Regions from separate parts of the Homo sapiens genome. Here region 1 is linked to region 2. A link means that fine-mapping ties the variant in region 2 to the expression of a gene that starts in the linked region. Tissue or cell type: tibial artery. Region 2 holds a variant in brackets; the other region holds the start of a gene. All regions are shown on one strand. Distances are from middle to middle.

Evidence for each region. PIP is the estimated chance that this variant, and not a neighbour inherited with it, causes the effect.
Region 1: it holds the start of COL7A1, and the variant in region 2 is fine-mapped to the expression of COL7A1 in tibial artery (GTEx, PIP above 0.99).

Annotation. Positions count from the first base shown.
Region 1 is chr3:48,594,369-48,596,971 of GRCh38, forward strand. It overlaps COL7A1 (collagen type VII alpha 1 chain), which reads right to left and starts at 961. Exons shown (of 119, transcript NM_000094.4): 1 at 900-961; 2 at 707-792; 3 at 1-180. The coding sequence starts at 791.
Region 2 is chr3:48,421,033-48,423,788 of GRCh38, forward strand. PLXNB1 (plexin B1) reads right to left here. Exons shown (of 38, transcript NM_001130082.3): 3 at 2,473-2,756; 4 at 1,733-1,915; 5 at 1,299-1,427; 6 at 1,073-1,173; 7 at 642-774; 8 at 196-352. Among named protein-coding and RNA genes, the nearest start is that of PLXNB1, 7.7 kb to the right of the region's middle. The variant T/G (reference allele first, on the strand shown) is at 1,358.

The DNA of each region.
Region 1 (2,603 bases), 170 kb after region 2:
GTGGGTCATCGCTGTACTGCACTGTGGCAAAGCGCACACCCTGTGCACTGGCTGCTCCAGAGAAAGGCAGCACCAGCCCTTCGAGAAAGCTGCGGACCTCGCGGAAATTGCTGCGGCCAATGGATGAGGAGCCATCCAGTAAGAACACAATGTCAGCGGCGTAAAGGCGCGTGCAGGTCACTGGGGCGGGCAGGAGAGATCAGGGCCTCTTCTGGGAGGCCAACCACCCGCCTACCCGCACGGTGGCCTCACTGGGACTTGGGATGGTGGGGAGAGTAGGCCTCATCTTATGCAAACCAGGGCCGAATCGGCCTGAGCCTGAGGGCCTTGGAGGGAGTTGAGCTCGGTGGGTCCCAGAGCAGACTCCCGCGGAGGGTTGGGGGTGTGCGGGGGAGGGAGAGTCGCCAGCACGGGTGTGGACTTGGGACTGAGGTCAGCCTCTAGGGGCCGGCGTGGATTGGCATAAGGCAGGGGACCCCGCACGCATCCAGGGAGCCAGAATTTGGGTAGGAACAGGATAGGAGGCGGTTTAGGGAACCCAGCACCGATCGCGGAGGGTTCGGGGAGTCCCAGAATTAGGAGGAATCCGCGGGGCGTCGTGGAGTTGGCTGGGTTGTGGGCGGGGGGTGTTGGGGATGAAGGCCGAGTGGAGCGGAGGGTGGCACGGTGCAGTGCCCCGGGCCGGGTCCTCCCTTGCGGTGCCCACCTCTCTCCCTGTGCTGGGCTCGCACTCGGGGCGCCTCTGCCAGGATCCCGGCGCAGAGCGCGGCCACCAGAAGCCGCAGCGTCATCCTAGGCAGTAAAAGCCGTCAGCTAGGACCCCCGCCTCTGTCCCTTGCTCCCCCGTGGCCTTGGCAGGTCCGAGCCCAGCGCCCCTCCAGCCCGAGTCCTGGTCTTGCCTGCGCGTCCGCCCGCTCCCGCCGCCGCCGCTGCAGTCTCTCGGGCAGAGCAGAGAAAAGTCCCTGATCTCGGGGGGCGGAGCGGCAGGCGGGAACCCAGGCACCCGCCCTCACCCATATCCCTGAGAGGTCGCCGCCCCCCCCACCCCTCCCCCAGACAAACGATATGACGCACTTAACTATAAACCCCCCGACCCCCCGTGGCTTCTGGGAATTTCCCAGAAGGTTCTGCATGGGCAGATGCTGAGGGAGTACCCCTAACTCCATCTAAGGTCACAGGTCTTGGCTGCTTTAGGTCAATCACAGTGACCAGGCTGAGGAGTGGACAGGTTCCTGCAGAGCCACAAGGCAGCAGCGCCGTGGGGGGTGGGGCTGCAGTTGGGGATGACTCACCCCCAATCCAGTGGGGGTGCCCAGACAAGCCCTCAGGCCATGGGTCCCGCCGGCCACTCCTGTGATTCAGCCATCTGTCTGGTGGGCCTCCTGGGCCCCACCCGGATCTCCTTGACAGGCAAGAAGCCCTGGCAAATGAGTGACTCTGGGCCGGTCTTAGGGAAACCAAGGTCCCCTTGGCCTGGATCCAAGTAACTCACCCCCTCTTTGTAGGGGATAAGCCGGAAGGAGGAGAGAACCTGTGTCATGCTTATGCATACATCCCAGTGTCCCACATCCCCTACCATGTCACAGGCAGATGCAATCCAGCTGTGCCTGCAGGGAGGGGGCCGCCCATCTGTGGAGGGCGGGACCACCCACAGTGACAGCTCATCTCTCAGGAATCGAGCCCTCCATGCCCCAGGCCAGGTCCCCCTACCTACATGTCCTCACCCACAGGCATCCTCTCCTTCCATCTACTTTTCTTGTAGGTCCCTGCCACCCATCTCCCCTACCAGGCCGAGGTCCCCTTGGGCCCCTTCCTCCTTTCCTCACTGCCCTCATGGTACCTGTAGCTTCCAGCTTCATAACTGCCCCCTACCTTACTCCTGTCCCCTTACCCAGGCTGACTTCACACCCTCCCCCAGCTTCGCTTCTGAGGCTGTGGACAGTCCTCCAACACACACCACGCCAGGGCCACTGTCCGAAGGAGGTGGGGCTCTGTATATGCATATCTCTCCATTAGATGGGTGACACTAAGGCAGAGAGGCACTGCTAAGAAGGGCAGGCCCCCATCTGGGTCCTGCTCCCCCTTTTTTTCCTGCTAATCCTGAATAACTCTGGGCAGCCCAGAAAGCACATCTATACTCACCAAGGCTGCTGGGCCCCTTCTAATATGCCCGGCCCCACAGCCTCCCCTGGGATCCACAGGGAGATATGGGGACAGCACTGGCTGGACTCCTCCACAGCCCGAGGACTCTGGTGTGGCCAGAGCTGGAGGCAGTGAAGACCATCCATGCTGCCTGCTTTCCTATTGCCCAAGGAAGGCTGGGGCTCTATCCCTTATTACTGACCCCCCAAACTATCCTGGGGCATAGTGCTATGACCTTATTCCAAGGTCAGGGTCTCCTCAGCCATGTCCCAGGACCCCCCATCCCTGCAAGGTGTGCTCCAGGTGGGGGGCTGCAGAGAACCAGGTATGTTATCACACAGGCAGCCCCTTCCCCCTAAGACTGTCACCTCCTCCCGTGCAGCCAGGGCGGGCAAGAGCAGGCCAGTGGCATGGACAGTACGGTACAGACATATGTGCACACGTGGGCCAGTCTTAGGGGA
Region 2 (2,756 bases):
TGAATGGGGAAGAGGACCCGGGATGAGGGAATACAGTCCAAGGGCACAGAATGGAGGCTTCAGGTGGTTGGGGAGTGGGAGGACCCAGAGAAAGGCATCCATTCATGGCTCTTTGCCTGGATTCACACTTTAACCCCACCGCATCCCCTGAAGCAGGGGCTGGCCCCCACCAGGCTGGCCCATTCTCTCACCCACCGGCTCCTCTCGGCAGCACTGGGGCCTCACTAGGGTCTGGGGAGGGGCACATCACACCAGAACCAGTCAGCAGGGCAGGACTCTGATGTTCCCCAAAGTGGCAGGAATATGACTCCCCTGGCCACAGGGGTGGCAGGTCTGGCACTGATAGGAAAACCTGCCAAGAGAGCCAGGGACACACTGTTGGGGCTAGTGGGCAGCAGACCAGGGCTCACATTTATGGGACACCCAATGTGGGCAGGCACCAGCAATCAACAGCCCTCAGGCCTCCCCAAACACCCTCTGGCCTGAGTTAGAAATAGATGGGGAAACTGAGCTCCTAAAAGAAGTGACTTGTGTGAGGCCATGTGGTATCTGGCATGTCCGACATCAGGATCCAAGATCTCTACCCAGACCTTGATGCCCAGAGCCCTCCCCACCAGGGCCCTGCCTATCTGATCATTCACCTCCCTCGTCTCCTCTCGGCTGATGTTGGCAGGACTCATGGCTGCCACTTGCAGACAGCCCAGCTCAGGCTGGAAGCTCCATAGCCACTGCTCTGGGCCCTGGCCCCTCGAGCACTCAGAACGGCGACTGCACCTGGGCGAGATGACCAGTGTCTATCTGTGACCCTCATGGGCCACTGGGAGTTCATAGGGTAGGGACTCCTACAATCTGGAGGACCTGGGCAGGGCCCTAGAGTGGGCATGATAGAGGCTCCTGTGTCTGCCCTGGCAGGGCACTGATGCCCAGTGCAGAGGATGGGGGTGAGGAATTGGGGTGTCTGGGGATCAGGGGTTGAGAGTCATGGTCTAAGGGTCAGGAATTCTGGACAGGACAATTATGCAGGAGCATTGTGGGCTTGAGGCTGGGGCTGGGATGGGGTCAGAAATCTGACCTGCCAAGGAGCACGCACCACCCACAGTATGGGTCCCTGTGAGCAAGGCAAGATGCACAGTCCAGGTGCTGAGCACAGGAAGCCACAGGAACCTTCAGAAGCTGAGACAGCAAAGAGGACCTGAGGCCAGCAATCCAAACACCAGTGGCTCACCCACAAGTGGGTCCCTGGCCCCACCCAGAGGCCCCTCCCAGCAGCCATGCCCTGGCTTGTGCCTGGCACTCACTGTGCTCTGGGTCATGACATACAGGTGCTCAAAGGTCCCATCAAAGGTGAGGTCTCTGC[T/G]CACTGCAGACCCCTGCTGGATGCTCTGTGTGGAGTATGGGTGGCCATCGCTCCCTGGGCCCAAGTAGACCTGGGATCAGAGACCACAGGGTCTGGGACCCAAGTCCATGGCCAGAGGCCCAAAGCCCTCCCCTCCTCCACCCAATCGAAGTAATTTACAAATAGAATTTCCTCCTAGGCAGTCACAGGTCATACCAACTGGCCTAGCGGGGATGGAGGAAAGTCACAGGTAAACACCACCCAGTCCTGGGGAGAGGAGCTCAGGTCATCTCTCCTGGCCCAGGGGTCACAGGGATAGCTTAAACCAGGCTGGGTCCCTAGCAATCTGTTCCCTCCAGACTCTGGGGCAGGGGCCAGTACTTCCTGTGGGCTCACCCTGTGCAGCTGCCCTTGACTATCACCCAGGAAAGCGATGGTGTGTCCATCTTCCATGGTGACTGCCACAGCTGTTAGCTGAATCCCTGGCCACTCCAGAATTGGTGTGGCTTCCAGCGGGACCCGGCTGGCCATGGGGCTGGGCGTGTGGTCTGAGCCACAGGGATAAGCATCCAGGGTGTCCTATAGGCAGCAAGAAGCATCAGGAAGGCCCTCCCTGGATAACCTCCTCGGCCGCATCGTCCCTGGACAACCTCATTCCCTCCCCCAGCCGCTCTGGTAGCTCTCCCTGTACAACTGTGTTTTCTCTGCTGGCCCTCCTGGGACAATCTCATCCCCGCCCCCAGTCTCTCTTCCCTTTTTTATCCATCCTGAGGCTACAGCTCATCAATCCCGACCTCACCTTCCTCTCCTGCTCAAGAACCAAAGGTCTCATTCCATTCTAGGTCCCTGTCCCTACCCAAGAACCCCCAAACACCCTCCCAATCCACCGACACAAGTGCCACCCCTCCAGCATCCTGGTCCAAGCCCATCCAGACACTGCTGCCACCCGCATGCCAGATTTGTGGTAAGGTACCCTTCCACTGCCCAGGCAACATAGGAAGCACTTAATATTTGCTGATCTGATCATCCTCGTGCTACCACCAGCTGCCCTCGGACTCTCTGGGCAGCTCCTTGGCTGCAAATGCTTGGCCAGTGGCCTCAGAGAGGCGGAAAAGTGGGGCAATACTGGAACTCACCACTGGCAGCTGTGCACAGTCAGAATTGACATCATACTCGATGTAGGCCACCTCGGTCCCATCCTCAGCACGACCCTCCCGGGTGTAGCAGGCATCTCGCGTGCGATTAGCAAGCCGGTCCACCTCATCCAGGGGGAAGGCACAGAGGGCAGAGGCTCCAGATGCCCCAGCAGCCGCCGATGGGGGCCGGCCCACAGTGGGGGGTGCAGCCGAGGAGAAAGCTGCAAAGAGCACCTCCCCATGCGCCACCTCCCTGGACGTGGCCACAGCTGCAGCCTGGATCA